Homo sapiens: one gene and its partner. The protein of the gene in region 1 purifies or fractionates together with the protein of each later gene. This does not show direct contact. Each region holds a gene or a part of one and is shown in the gene's direction. Other genes may lie near its edges.

Evidence for each region.
Region 2: the proteins of ODAPH (region 1) and MAN2B2 purify together in Homo sapiens (affinity purification with mass spectrometry; 2 studies listed by BioGRID and IntAct, with this or other methods). This does not show direct contact.

What each region holds. Positions count from the first base shown.
Region 1 is NC_000004.12:75,551,098-75,559,327, forward strand, and holds the start of ODAPH (odontogenesis associated phosphoprotein isoform 2 precursor), read left to right. Parts: upstream 1-4,968; 5' UTR 4,969-4,985; coding exon 4,986-5,052; intron 5,053-5,443; coding exon of another isoform or gene 5,444-5,487; intron 5,488-8,230. UniProt on the Homo sapiens protein: May promote nucleation of hydroxyapatite.
Region 2 is NC_000004.12:6,591,913-6,599,188, forward strand, and holds part of MAN2B2 (epididymis-specific alpha-mannosidase isoform 1 precursor), read left to right. Parts: intron 1-1,260; coding exon 1,261-1,438; intron 1,439-2,621; coding exon 2,622-2,820; intron 2,821-5,200; coding exon 5,201-5,391; intron 5,392-6,285; coding exon 6,286-6,442; intron 6,443-7,276.

The sequences.
Region 1 (8,230 bases):
ATATGGTATAGGCCTATTATTCTTAGGCTACAAACCTGTAGAGCATGTTACTGTACTGAATACTGTAGGCAGTTGTAACACAATGATAAGTGTTTGTGTATCCAAACATAGAAAAGGAAGAGTAAAAATACCATATAAACGATTAAAAAAAATACACCTGTAGGGTACTTACCACAAATGGAGCTTGCAGGATGGGAAGTTGCTCTGGGTGGGGCAGTGAGTGAATGAGTGGTGTGTGAACGTGAAGGACATTACACTCCTAAAGACTTTATAAACACTGCACACTTAGGCTATACTAAATTTATGGAAATATTTTCTTCAATAATAAATTAACCTTATCTTACTATAACTATTTTACTTATAAATCTTTAAATTAAAAACATTAAATTTGGCCAGGTGCGGTGATTCACGTCTGTAATCTCAACACTTTGGGAGGCCGAGGCAGGTGGATCATCTGAGGTCAGGAGTTCGAGACCATTCTGACTAACATGGTGTAACCCCGTCTCTACTAAAAATACAAAAATTAGCTGGGCATGGTGTTGCATGCCTATAATCTCAGCTACTCCGGAGGCTGAGGCAGGAGAATTGCTTGAACCCAGGAGGTGGAAGTTGCAGTGTTGACCCGAGATTGCACCATTGCACTCCAGCCTGGGCAAAAGAGTGAAACTCTGTCTGAAAAAATAAATAAATTTTATTTATTTAATTAATTTAATTTTTTTTTTTTTTTTTTTTTTTTGAGACGGAGTCTTACTCTGTCACCCAGGCTGGAATGCAGTGGCCTGATCTCGGCTCACTGCAAGCTCCGCCTCCCGGATTCATGCCTTTCTTCTGCCTCAGCCTCCTCGGTAGCCGGGACTACAGGCGCCCACCACCACGCCTGGCTAATTTTTTTGTATTCTTAATAGAGATGGGTTTTCACCATGTTAGCCAGGATGGTCTCGATCTCCTGGCCTCGTGATCCGCCTGCCTCGGCCTCCCAAAGTGCTGGGATTACAGGCGTGAGCCACCGCGCCCGGCCAAAATTAAAAATTTTTAACCTTTTGACCTTTTGTAATAACACTTACCTTAAAATACAAACACATTGTACAGTAGTATAAACATACTTTCTTTGTATTCTTATTCTATAAGTTTTATTCTATTTCTAAAATTTTAATTTTTTTTTTACTTTTTAAACTTTTTTATTAAAAACTAAGACACAAACATATACATTAGCCTAGACCTACACGGGGTCAGGATCATCACTGTCACTGTCTTCCACCTCCACATCTTGTTCCACTGGAAGATCTTCAGGGGCAATAACATGCATAGAGCTGCCATCTGCTATGATAACCATGCCTTCTTCTGGAATACTTCCTGAAGGACCTGCCTGAAGCTATTTTAGAACAGACTTATTTTTTGTAAATAGAAGGAGTACAGCCTTAAGTAACAATGAAAACTATAGTATAGTAAATGCATAAACCAGTAATGTAGTCATTTATCATTACCAAGTATGTACTATGCATAACTTTAAGTGCTATACTTTTTTCATGTCTAGCAGTGCAGCAGGTTTGTTTATACCAGGATCATCAGCACAAACATGTGAGTAATGTATTGTGCTATGACTTTATGGCATCTACAAAGTCACTAGGCAATAGGAATTTTTCAGTTCCATTATAATCTTATGGAACCACTGTCATATATGCAATCTGTCATTGACAAGAAGTCATTATACAGCATATGACTGTATATTTAATTAGAAGAAAAAACATAAATTTTGGAATCAGAAAAATCTCAGTTCTGACTCTCAATCTTACCACTTAATGTCTTTCAGTCTTGAGGAAAGAAATGTTAACTCCTCTCAATACCTCATAATTTCTCATTGTGAGAAAAAGACCTAACACAAACTGGCCTATGTACATGGGCTCTTCCCCTTAACACACTGGATTAACAACTGTGACTCAAAGCCATTTATAGCCTTCTTGACATTGGGAAACATACACATTAGAGTCTCATTGATCAGTCTGCAACTAAATGATTTGTGGATAATTAAAGTATATGACTAAAAAGATATTTTTACCAAAACTACTGCATTTGAAATAAGCTTTCAGAAATATTTTCATATTTTTAAGGTATGAGGATTTTTGGCAAATGAATCTGATAACTTCACAACAGTTTCATTGATTTTACATGTTGGGAAACACTTGGCTCCACTGTATATATAACATACAAAGACATAAGATATGCCGAGACTTAGTTATTCTATACACTAATAACAAAGAAATGTTGGAATTTTCTGCTGGATAAGAATTTGATAAAATTTTTTTAAATTGTGTTCCTTGGCCAGGCGCGGTGGCACACACCTGTAATCCCAGCATTTTGGGAGGTCGAGGTGGGCAGATCACCTGAGGTCAGGCATTCGAGACCAGCCTAGCCAAAATGGTGAAATCCCGTCTCTACCAAAAATACAAAAAAATTAGCTGGGTGTGGTGGCACACCCTCATGCCTCAGCCTCCTGAGTAGCCCTGTAATCCCAGCTACTCGGGAGGCTGAAGCAAGAGAATTGCTTGAGCCCAGGAAGCAGAGGTTGCCGTGAGCCAAATGGTGCCACTGCACTCCAGCCTGGGCAACAGAATGACACTCCATCTCAAAAGAAAAAAAAATGTATTCCTTTTAAAATTTTGTTCCTTTATTTTATAAACTTCAGAACAACAGATTTGAATGAAAAAATAAGTTATTTTGCTTTTGTTATTTATTTTCATCAACATTTAAGATGAAAGCTCATTAGCACTCCAAAACAAAAAAGAAAGAGAATCAGAAGAAGTAATAGAAATGTCCATCAGTTAAAAGTTTGGTTAAATAAATTACAGTAAATCTATAAAATGAAACACCAGGCAGTGGCTGAAGTGATTATGTGAATCTAATTCTATTGGCATTGTGGTGTATTTACAATGCAGGGGACAAAGTAGCATATGTGATACTGACCCGTTGATGTAAAATTACAGACTGTGTTTGTCTGCTTCGTTCTCCCATAGCCTTCAGTCCTTCCCCTCTCTTAGCACTCAAAACGCTTTATTGTTATTCCTGAGTTAATTTTTAATGTCTCCTAAACTATAAGTTCCATGAGAGCAGGAATCTTATCTTTAGCCCCAGCACCTTGACCAGTGTCTGACACTGAATAAATAAAAGTCAATACAGAATTATTGAATGAATGGGTAGTCTAAGGAACTCAATTTGTCCTGGATGTTTCCTGATTCCTTTTCAAACTGCTGACAAATCATCCATCTGATTATCTGTTCTGGAAGTTTGCCTAGGACTAACATCAAGCCTGAGGAACTTTCCATTTTCTATCTGTGAGTGTTTGCATCCTTATTCATTTAGACTTTCAGTTTGCACAGCCTCTCTTGTTAGATTGTCAGTCCTTCAAAGACAGGGACCATGTTTAGTTTGTTCTTTTTTTTTTTTTTTTTTTTTTTCCATGATACCCAGGAAAATGTTCTGCTTAAAGTGGAGGTCTTTCCAGTGATTAACTGATTTGGCAAGTACAGCCTCCTAAGAGAATAAATTATCAGTTGGGATTATTATAATTTAATGACAATCACAAACACTCCCTTTCACAGGCCAGGCACTGTGGTTGGAGCTGTATGTCAATTATCTCCTTGATATGAAACCAACTAAGTGGCCATCGACCAACGAGTGGATAAAGAAAATGTGGTAGAAATACACCATGGAATACTACTCAGCCATAAAAAAATGAAATAATGTCTTTTGCAGCAACTTGGATGGAGCTGGAGGCCATTATTCCAAGTTAAGTAACTCAGGAATGGAAAACCAAATATCGTATGTTCTCACTTATACGTGGGAGCTGAGCTATGAGGACACAAAGACATACAGAATGATATAATGGACTTTAGAGGCTAGGGGTGGGGGAGGTTGGGAAGGAGGTGAGGGATAAAAGACTACATATTGGGTGCAGTGTACACTGCTCGGGTGACGAGTGCACTAAAATCTCAGAGTTCGCCACCATAGAGTCCATCCATGTAACCCAAAACCACTCGTACCCCAAAAGATTGAAATTTAAAAAAAATTTTTTTTAAAAGCATCTCCTTAATTCACAAATTCCTCTGAGGGTAGTACCACAAGTCCCATTTTACAGGTGAGGCCCCTGAGGCTTCAGCAAGTCTCAGGGACTCACCACAGTCACTCAGCTAGTAAGAAAAGGAACAAAGACTGGAATTTTACCTGACTCCAAGGTCCATGTTCTTAATCACCTGTGACAATCCCCTCTCATATATCCAGCAGCTGATGAAGTCTTTCTCTCAGGAAACCAACTGGACATAGACATGTCATGTCCATTTTATATGCAATATGGTGAATCAGGAGGAGCCGTGAAAGGACGACTCACTAAGTTACTCTCCCAATGTTTATGTTTGTTTAGACAGTGACCATCATGACCACTAGGGAAGATCACTTTCTGATTCTGCTGCCCTCACCTCCTGGACAAAAGCAGAGCAGAGAAGCAGCATAAACCCTGGTTGGGGGCCTAAGAATGATCCCCAACTCTCCACTGCAAACCACCGGGGTCAGGAAGCCTCCGGGTAATGCCCTCTCCCTCTTGTTTCGCTTTTTAAGTAGGTAAGCTGCACAGAGAGAAGCACTGTTGCATATTTCTGGACAGCTTATTTCTCTTGCAGAGGAAGACTGATATACACAACTAAAAGGCACTAACATGGGAGAAGATTTGAGAGATTAGAAGGATGGTGAAGGTGCGGTTGTCCAAAATCCCCCTCTGGGGGGAGATGATTGATATCTGGCTGTCATTCCAAGAAGCTTCTGGTTGACAAATACTGTCTGGTATTTCCTTGCTGATTTCTTACCCTCACACCGCAAGCCCTGATCTCTGTGGTCCACTGTGCAAATGCAAATTACCTGAATCAGGCTGCTGGTGACTCACCAGCTCCCCTTTAAAGCAACATCAGGTTCAACGCAGTGACTGCTCAGTAGAAGCCATGGCTCGCAGACACTGCTTCTCCTACTGGTTACTGGTATGCTGGTTGGTGGTAACTGTGGCAGAAGGTAAGGGTTTTGCTTTTATTCTACTGTGGGTCCACTAATTAATAAGTTGTAGGAAAAGACAAAACTGGCTCCATGATTATACGTTCCCATAAATTGGAAATATTTACCTCAGCTTCCATCAGCCTGTGTGGTTAAAGAGAAGGAAGTTGGATTTTGTCACCTGAAGACCTTGGTCCTCGTCTCAGCAATAGCTCTGTGACTTTAGACACACTTAAAATCTCTGAGTATCAGATTCCTCATATGTGAAGTGACAACATTAACAATATCCATCGTTATGGGGTTTGCAAGGACCAAATGAGCTATCATCTGTGAAAAACTCTTCAAGCTAAAAACACTGTACAAATACTAGTTATTATGGTTACAAAGCTAACAATTCCACTTTGAATTACAGCACTGTCCACTTTCTATCTCCAGCAGCATATTAATTTGCACATGGTGGGTATTTAGTCTTTGTTCATTGCTTTAATTAATCACATCTATTGAGCTGCATTTTGGTGCCACAGAGGTGGGCACAGGTTTCTTTCTTTAGGATTTTATTAGATTCCATTTCTCAACTGTTCCTATTCTCTTTCTTTGTTCCCACTACAAAATGTGTCCTGAGCCTTACAATTGGTTTGCAAACCCCTAGGAAAAGGAAAGAAAAGGCTGGGGAAGGGATGAAAAGAGGGAAATACAAGGGGAGGAAATCTTGGGGAGCCTAGATCTAACCTTTTCTTCAGTTTATTTTAATTCCAAAACTAGATGCTGTTTACGGAAGATGGACCTAGGAGTCAAACAGAGCACTTCACCCCTTTCACATGTCTTGGGTAGGGGGCTTTGCAGGGGCTCAGCCAAACCCTGCTCATCCCCAGACAGATTCCCCGTTCCCATCCCTCAGAGCTCACAATAGACAGGAGGAGGGGAGAGACATAAGAGCTGGTTGTGGAACACTCAGAAACCCCCTGATCCAACCTCTGCACACACTCTGGCAATCAGGGGACAGGGCATAGATTATGAACAAAACCTGCCCCCATATCCCAAGGCAAGGCCCCCAAGCCTCACCTACTAAAAGTGACATCTAAAAGAAGCATCATAAAACAAAACTAGCCACCTGCCACTTTCTCTGCAAAAAGTGAACCGCTCTTCAGGAGGCTTTGTAAACACATAGCTAAACAAGTTATAATGAGATTAGAGATTTATTTTATTCACATCTTAAAAACACCCACTGAGGCTGGGTACAGTGGCTCACACCTGTAATCCCAGCATTTTGGGAGGCCGAGGTGGGCAGATCACCTGAGGTCGGGAGTTCAAAACCAGCCTGACCAACATGGAGAAACCCCATCTCTACAAAAAATACAAAATTAGCCAGGTGTGGTGGTGCATGCCTGTAATCCCAGCTACTCGGGAGGCTGAGGCAGGAGAATCGCTTGAACCCAGGAGGTGGAGGTTGCCATGAGCCAAGATCGTGCCATTGCACTCCAGCCTGGGGAACAAGAGTGAAACTCTGTCTCAAAAAACAAAACACCCATTGAAACACCAGATTTGATTTCCGAATTTGGCTCACTTTTCCCTACAATCCCTCGAAGTCCTTCAAATGTAGCTTCATTCTATCCCAGCAGCCCCTGCTTCCAGTTCATCGCTCGTTCACACACACCCTGGGTCTGCCCGACAAGGTCATGTGTGGATCTCCATACTCATCCTCTTCTCACTGATGCACGGCAGCAACCACAGCTGCTCCCTCCACTTGCTTTCACCTCTGTTTGTTGCAGTTCCGCTTTAAGGCACAACATTTAAATGCCACTATGATTTTGCCTTGACAAAGTCTTTGTTAAGACATAATAATTTTAAAATTGCAGTTTCTCTTTCTGACACCTTTGAATTCTTACAGCTATTTGTGCATCACCTACGGCACGTATGGCATCTGCTCTCTGCTGCAGATCCCTGGCTTCATAGCATCTGCCCACTCCTTGAGCTCAGGCTCTTAATCTTAATCATCTCTGCGTTTGCCAGAGCCCCTAATGTAGTAACCTGTACCTGTTGAAACAACTTGACTCACAGCATAGAATTGAAAGGGGCCTGTCTGATACTTTCTGGGCTCTGATATTTTATCTGTGAAATTAGAGATTTGACCAAGATAGTCATTCTTTGAGTCTACAAAATAAATTGAGTTTTGCAGTTATTGTGAGTAAATCAATCATAGAACTTATTCTTTCTGGCTCAAGTCTGAAAGCACATGAGAATTAGTTTCTAAGACTCCATGCACCATGTAAGGGAAGAACTGCACACTTAAACTTTAAGTAGAAAGCTGACTTCTCTTAAAATCAGTATAGTTCACTGCAAGCCAGCTTTGTCTGCCCAAATAACCACAGAGTATAGGTAATTATAAAAAAAAAAAAAGGTCTTTCATCATTACCTTTTTTTAAAAAAGTACTTGTTTTTAAAGTAGTTGTTGGTATGCTGTGAATTTCATGTCTAGACTATAATAAACCACCTTAAAACTGATATTCAAATTCCAAGCAATATTTTGCCTTGTTTTTTCTATTATACTCTAATTTTTTTGTTTGTTTGTTTGTATGTTTGTTTGAGACAGGGTCTCCCTCTGTCGCCCAGGCTGGAGTGTGCAGTGGCACTATCTCAGCTCACTGCAACCTCCGCCTCCTGGGTTCAGATGATTCTCCTGCCTCAGCCTCCAGAGTAGCTGGGATTACAAGTGTCTGCCACCATGCCCGGCTAATTTTTGTGTTTTTAGTAGAGACGAGGTTTCACCATGTTGGCCAGGCTGGTCTTGAACTCCTGAGCTTAAGTAATCTGCCTGGCTCAGCCTCCCAAAGTGCTGGGATTATAAGTGTAAGCCACCACGCCCAGCCAATTTTTAATATAATTTATTATTGCAGATTTTCTGCGACTGAAATTAAATACTCACTGAACTCCACAAAATATACAGAGAGGAACATTCAAGGTCGGCCTGACCATTTAACTCATCAAGTATTTACTGAGCACCACTATAAGCCAGGGACTATTCTAGGTGCTGGAGACACCGGCAGTGACCAAGAGTCAACAGTCCCTGTCATTGGCGAGGTCCTATTCTAGTAACGTGTGTCCCCAGTAGCCCTATCTTTAATGCACAAATTTTATGGGCCTAAGAAAATGGTGCTCAGGCTAACAGAATGTTTCCATAACATTCAAGATTAATAACCGT
Region 2 (7,276 bases), about 69 Mb from region 1:
GCAGCCCACTGACGGAGATGCTGTGAGTGCCCCATCTTACAGAAGGAAAAACTGAGGCACAGCAGCCCGCCCCAGGTCCCACAGCTGGCAGACGTGGTGGAGCCAGCGTTGGATTCAGGCCACCAGCTCTGCAGCCTCCACGTGGTGGCAGCAGTCAGCCTTGGTCTCTGTGCAGTCAGACGGCCCTGGGTTCAAATCCGCACTCTGCCCTGGCCAGGTGCTTAGCCTCTCTTGGAAGAGGAAAGACAACAGGCAAGGCAGAGGGGGTGAAGAACACTGGCCGGGATTAATTAGCGGTCACTGCCATTTGTCAGCCCTCCTTTGTGCCCAGCACTGTTTCTAGCTCCTTTCCATAAATGACTTTCATTTAATCCTCACAACAACCTGCTCCACATTCTACCAGGGAGCTTGGTGAGGCTAGAGGTGGCAGTGCTGGTGGCTGATGACTGTGATCCCAATGCTTTGGGAGGCTGAGGTGGGAGGATTGCTTGAGCCCAGGAATTCGAGACCAGCCTGGGCCACAGAGCAAGACCTCGTCTCTACATAAAATTCAAAAACAAGTCGAGCATGGTGGTAGTCCCAGCTCCTGGGGAGGCTGAGGCGATGGCTTGAGCCCGGGAGTTCGAGGCTGCAGTGAGCCGTGATCATATCACTGCACTCCAGCCTGATCAACAGAGCAAGACCCTGTCTGTAAAAGAAACAGAGGTGGGAATGCTGGAAGGGGCTGCCCAGGTTGGAGAGCTCCAGACAAGGGTTCCATGGCTGCTACCCCGAGGCTGCACAGTGTGAGCAAGGAAGGCACTTAACTGGGGGTTCTCCACACCCCCAGCCTAAGGCAAACAGAGAAAGATGTTAAATACTGAGCCTGTCTTTATTTAAAACTCTGACATTTTGTTCCTCATGGGTTTTTTGCATTAATTTTCATTTTTTAAAGTACTGCATTAAAATATCATTTATCTCAACTACTAAGAATTGAGGCACCCCCATAAATTTTGTGCCCTAGGCCAGGGCCTCACTTGCCTCACCAAGCCCCCGGCCTCTTTGGGGTCCTGAGACCCGGGGTCTGATGGGCGAGAAGTTGGCCTGCGTGAATGAGCAAACAAATCTGTGACCCACCGTCGGTCATGGAGTGGGAGAATTCAGTCTCAGGGTGAAATGATGTGCCAAGGTCCCAAGGCTGGGAGAACATGGCACTTGGGTGTGAGCCCTGGCTGTCCACAGAGTTCGTGTCTTCTGCCCTAACCTTCTGCCCTCGCACAGGTCAGGATTTTACTGGAATGGCGTGGCTGTCTTCCCCAAGCCTCCCCAAGATGGGGTGTACCCCAACATGAGTGAGCCTGTCACCCCAGCCAACATCAACCTCTATGCCGAGGCCCTGGTGGCCAACGTGAAGCAGAGGGCCGCCTGGTTCCGGACACCGCACGTCCTCTGGCCCTGGGTAAGGCAGAGTCCCAGGTGCTGTGCCCTCAACACAGCCCAAGGAGCACTATGCAAGCCCTGGTCCCTGCACCCAGGGCCACCCTATCCAGACCCAGCTAGGCAGCCATGCTCAGCCCAGTGGCTCCATCCTCCTTCCCTGCAGACCCCTGGGCCTCTCCCACTCTACCAGCCCCTCCCCCACCTGGAAAAGCACCCTCACCCACGCTGGCCTCTCCAGCTCCCACTCAGCTCTCTTCCCTGCCTGGGCCGGGCTGGCTCCCGGCTCGGGCACTGCGTGCCTTAGAGTCCATTGAGCTTCAGTTGCCTCCGCTGTAAAATGGGGATGGTGGCAGCAGGCTTCATAGGCTTGGTGAGAGGTGAAGCGTTCCCGGGAAGCCAGTGCCCGGCACGTCGTGGCCATCGTCACAGCTAACCTTTAGTGAGCACCTGCTGTGTGCTGGGCACTGCCCCGTGGGATATATTTGTCTCAGCCATCTAATTTGCACCACTGGGCCTAGGAAGCAGGCTGGTATCCATTTCACAGTTGAGGAAACCAAGGCCCAGAGAGGTTAAGGAATTTTCCTGAGGCCACAGAGTTCCTTAGGGTGGCTAGGAAGGGGTGGAATTTGTGTTCAGACCCAGTCAGGCGGGCCCCAGAGCCTGCCTTCTTCATCCGTGACTGCCCTTGTGAAGGCAAGCTTAAGATCAGTAACTCAGTCATGGTTATTATTGCTGTTATTAATCATTATATTAATTATAATAATTAATAATCATTAATTATAATGATTTGGATAAGTAGTAACACTGATGGGCCTTAAGAGATGCCCAGGGCCGGGCGCTGTGGCTCACACCTATAATCCCAGCACTTTGGGAGGCCAAGGCAGGCAGATCACCTGAGGTCAGGAGTTCGGGACCAGCCTGGCCAACATGGTAAAACCCTGTCTCTACTAAAAATATAAAAATTAGCCAGGTGTGGTGGCGCCTGCAGCCTCAGGGAGGCTGAGGCAGAAGAATCACTTGAACCCGGGAGGCGGAGGTTGCATGAGCCGAGATCAAGCCACTGCTATGGGAGCTGGTTTGGGGCCCCTGTTGGCCGCCTTGGAGACTGGGAGGGCAGCTGGTGGAGGGCAGCGATCGGCCCACCCCCACTGGGCGAGCGCCCTGCTCCCACGGCACAGGATGTTGCTCCCATGTCCCTGCAGGGATGTGACAAGCAGTTCTTCAATGCCTCGGTGCAGTTTGCCAACATGGACCCGCTGCTGGACCACATCAACAGCCATGCTGCCGAGCTCGGTGTCTCGGTGCAGTATGCCACGCTGGGCGACTACTTCCGTGCCCTGCACGCTCTCAATGTCACCTGGCGTGTCCGCGACCACCACGACTTCCTGCCCTATTCCACAGGTACAGGCTTCCAGGGGCTGGGGTGGTAGTTTGGTGGCAGGGAGGGTATAGTCCACGTACCCTCTGCCCACTTCAGTGGCTGCTCGGCACTGCTCTCCAAGCCCTGGAGGGGTTCCAGGCAGGTTCTGTGTGGGGCGCAGGGGCAGAGACTGACCCTCTCTGCTCACTCCACCTGGACGTCCTGGCCACCACATGCACCACCTGATTCCCACAGGGTTCAGCCTCTCACCATTGCCCACCACATGCAGTTTCCTGCCTCTGGCCTTTGCACAGGTGGTGCCTCCTGCTGGGAGCGGCCTCCATCACCTTCTCTTCCTGCATGAGTTCCACATAAACCTCTTCTACGAGCCCTTTCCTGATGCTGAGGCTGACTCGGGCTTCCTTTCACTGCACAGTCATTACTGGGCACCTCCTGTGCATCATGCCTGTGTCCTCAGGCCAGAACTGGGTTGGCCACCAGCAGCACAGCCTGAGAGCTAAGAGGGCTGGCTGTGAGTAAGCCTCTACTCGCTGCCTGTGTGCAAGTCATGAAACCACCCTGTCTCCAAAGGGGGACATTTGTGGTGCCTCGTGCATAGATAGGGTTGCTGTGAAAATTCAATGAGAAGAAGTGCTCTCAGCCTCCTGCCCAGCACAGAGGCAGGGCTCAGCAGATGTCCTAGACCTCTGGGTGCTGCTGTAACAGTATACCACAGAATGGGTCATTGATTAGGAAACGAAGTTTCTTTGGCTCACAGATGTAGAGGCCGGGAAGTCCAAGGTGGAGGGCTGGTGTCTAGAGAGGGCCTTCTTTCTGCATCACCCATGGCTGAAGGCTGAGTGCAAAAGAACAGCCGGACAAGGGGGTTGAACTTGCTTTTCTAACAATCCCAGTCCCATGACAATGACATTAATCTGTTCACGAGGGCAGAGCCTTCATGGCCTAATCTCCTCTTAAGCATCCCACCTCTTAATACAGTCACAATGGCAATTAAATTTTAACATGGGTTTTGGAGGGGCATTCAAACCATAACATTTCCCTTCCAAAGAGATGCCACAGATGAACTCCAGCTGCAGGGCTCATTCTGGCCTGGGCACTGCCTTGACTCACCCATGACCTGGCTTAGTCCTGCCTCTCTGGGCCCCAGCCTCTGGGTCTGCATGGTGACCAGTGGGGCTGCATAGTCCCCGGCTCCTGCTGTTGACACCACATTGGAGGCAGGTGGGGCTGCACACACGGGTTGGGGGATGTCCGTGGATGTGGGTGTGGTTATAGTCAAGGCAGGAGGAGATATGTTAATGTGGGCATGGCTAATGGTGAGGTGGGTGGGGTAGTGACTGTGGGTGTGGCCACATCTAGCAGGTAGGGATATACCCGAGTCAAGTTGGGTGTGGCTCTGTCCAGGTGGGCGTGGTGTCCAGGTGGGCGTGGTATCCAGGTGGGCGTGGTATCCAGGCGGGTGTGGGTGGGCGTGGCGTCCAGGTGGGCGTGGTATCCAGGCGGGCATGGTATCGTGATGACCACTGAGGATGTGGAGCCCCTGCCAGACTGAATGGAATCGGGCCTCACCACCCACTCTCAACATGGCTGCAAAGCTGTGGAGGACCCCATCTGACCCACAGGGTGTGGCCTGTCCCCTGGGCCATGTGACCACCCCTCCCAGTCTGGTTCAGGACCAGTGGGGGAAGAACAGGGAATCAAGGCAAATCTGGGCACATCCCAGACGCCGAGGAGCAGGAAAGCAAAAGCAATAGGAAGCTCCCTTCTGAGACAGACAGCCACTCCCTGGGAGGGTTCAGCCCTCCTGCCTCCTGCATGGGCCCTGGGCATCCTCATCCTCTCTGTCTTGCATCAGGACACTGGCTCCCTGGGGTCTCTGAGCCCTTGCTGCCTCCTACCATCCATCCTCCCTGGACGCCCAGAGAATCCCTGCTGAAACGCATGCCTGTCCTGGCCTCCCCATGCCCACGTCACACATGAAGGCCTCTGTGCAGTCTAGGCCCTTCTCAGTGGGGTCCTGCCCACCTGGCTCCTCCTCTTCCCCTCTGGGTCTCCCAGGCCCTTTGCTCACACAGCTGTTCTGTGTTTCCTAGGCACCCTGGGCTTGCCTCCGATCAGGATCCTTCAGCACCCCACCCCACCTGCCCCAGTGCAGCCTGTCTCTCCCACCCTGCCCAAGGCCCATCCAGGGTTTTCTGGGCAGTTCCTAGTCTGGCTATGGGAGGAGGCCTGAGTTGGGAGCCGTAAGCCCTGGGCTCGCTGCCTGCCCGGCCTGCCTCCTTGGGTGACCCTGGCAGAGGCTGCCTCTGCAGCCCCAGCTTCTCAGCTCTTCCAGGGCTGGAGCTTAGCAGACTTCTGGGTCATGCCGTCTCAAGCTCACCATCTTCCCTTGTCTCCCAGAACCATTCCAGGCCTGGACGGGCTTCTACACGTCCCGCAGCTCACTGAAGGGGCTGGCCCGGCGAGCCAGCGCCTTGTTGTATGCCGGGGAGTCCATGTTCACACGCTACCTGTGGCCGGCCCCCCGTGGGCATCTGGACCCCACCTGGGCCCTGCAGCAGCTCCAGCAGCTTCGCTGGGCCGTCTCCGAGGTAACACCACATTTAGCCACAGTGGCAGGATTGGAACCTCCCATGCTGCGCACCTCCCCTCCCTTGTCCTAGCCAATCCTTCCAGCCCTGGGGCACTAGAGGCCCCACTTTACAGAGGGGAAACTGAGGTTCCCTTTGGTTACAAGGCCAGTGCATGGTGAACCCAGGCCAAGGCTGAGACCACAGCCTGATCCATCCAGCTGGTGGCCTCATTAAGCTTTGTAGCAGTTTAGCAAAAGGGATAAAGGACAAGGTGGAGTGGCATTTGTGTCCGACAGCCCTGCCTGCATCCATATCTCGGCTCAGCTGTGTGATGTCAGGCACATGATTCCCACACCCACCCAAGACCTAATTCCCTCCTGTACAATGAGAACAACGAGCTTGCCCAGGAGGACGGTGGGGCAATTGGATGTGCTGGTGTGCACAGCCTGCTTGGTGCAGTGGCTGCTGAATAGCCAGTTCATGAGTTTCCGTCTCCACCCATCCCCTACTGTACTGATGGGAAAACAGACCCAAGACAGCCTGTAACTTGTCCTCAGTCACCTATCCAAAAAAGGGTCACACCAGCCATGACACTGTAACAGTTCCCCAAAAGGAGCTGCTGGCAGAACATGTCATTATGTTGTGGGAGAAATGAGGTGACTTCAGGGTCCTTCAGAGCAGGGGGTCCAGAGATGGGGGACAATGAGTTCCCACAAGGGCAGGAAAAGTTGGGCGAGCTCCTCAGCTTCTCTTGGCCTCAGTTCCTCCTTCTGTAAAATGGCGGGGACTGCCCCCTTCTCCACTGGCACCTGGCAAGCCAGAATGAGAGCCAGCGCCTAGTAGGTGCCTTGTAGGTGCTTTGCAGAGTCAGGTCCTGATCCTGTTCTTCCTCCCCTCTGGGGGTTGCTGCAGGTCCAGCACCATGATGCCATCACTGGGACTGAGTCCCCCAAGGTGAGAGACATGTACGCAACGCACCTGGCCTCGGGGATGCTGGGCATGCGCAAGCTGATGGCCTCCATCGTCCTAGATGAGCTCCAGCCCCAGGCACCCATGGCGGCCAGCTCCGGTGAGCAGGGCCCTGCAGGGAGGCTGTGGCCCCTTTATGAAGGGAGAGCCTGAGGAGGTCAGGGGAGGGGCTCAACGACCCCAGCTTCAGACTCTGAGTCCACATCACCCATATCGCCCTTCCCCATGGTGAGAGCTCGGACAGGTGGCTTCAGTCCTCCCAGCCTCTGTTTGCTCATCCGTGCAATGAGGAAGGGTTGCTGATGTTACAAGAAGAGCCAGAAATAGCAGCTAACATGTTTTGAGCATTTACTAAGCTCAAAATACCCTTCATGCAGTATTGAATTTAATGCCTCACAAAATCTGTACAAAATAGGAATGGTTACTGTCCTCATTTTACAGCCGAGGAAACGGACTCAAGTTATATGCTAGCCCAGGGCCACTCGGGTAGGAAGGAGCAGAGCAGGGATTGAACCTGAACACGGTGCTGCCCAGCCTTGGCAGAGAGTACGCCGGTGTCCTCAGGGGCCCGGTCCCTTCCTGGCTCCTGGCACTCCCTCCCGAACTCCACTTGGCTGACATCACAGCAGGGCAGCCGTGGGACCAGCCTCTTTGACTGTGAGTTTTCCCACGTGTAGAGTGACTGATCACATGCCAGTGTGCCTGGGACTGAGGGGTTTCCAAACTGGGAAGATCCTGGACAAATGAAGACAGGTTGGCGGCCCTCCGCCCGCATGAGACTTTTGTGTGCATAGGCCGCCAGGTCCCACCCACAGCCTGCACCTGGTCATCTTGCACTTCCTTCTTGTTTTTTGTTTTTTGAGACAGGGTCTCGCTGTGTCACCTAGGCTGGAGTGCAGTGGTGCCAGTCATAGGTCACTGCTGCCTTAGACTC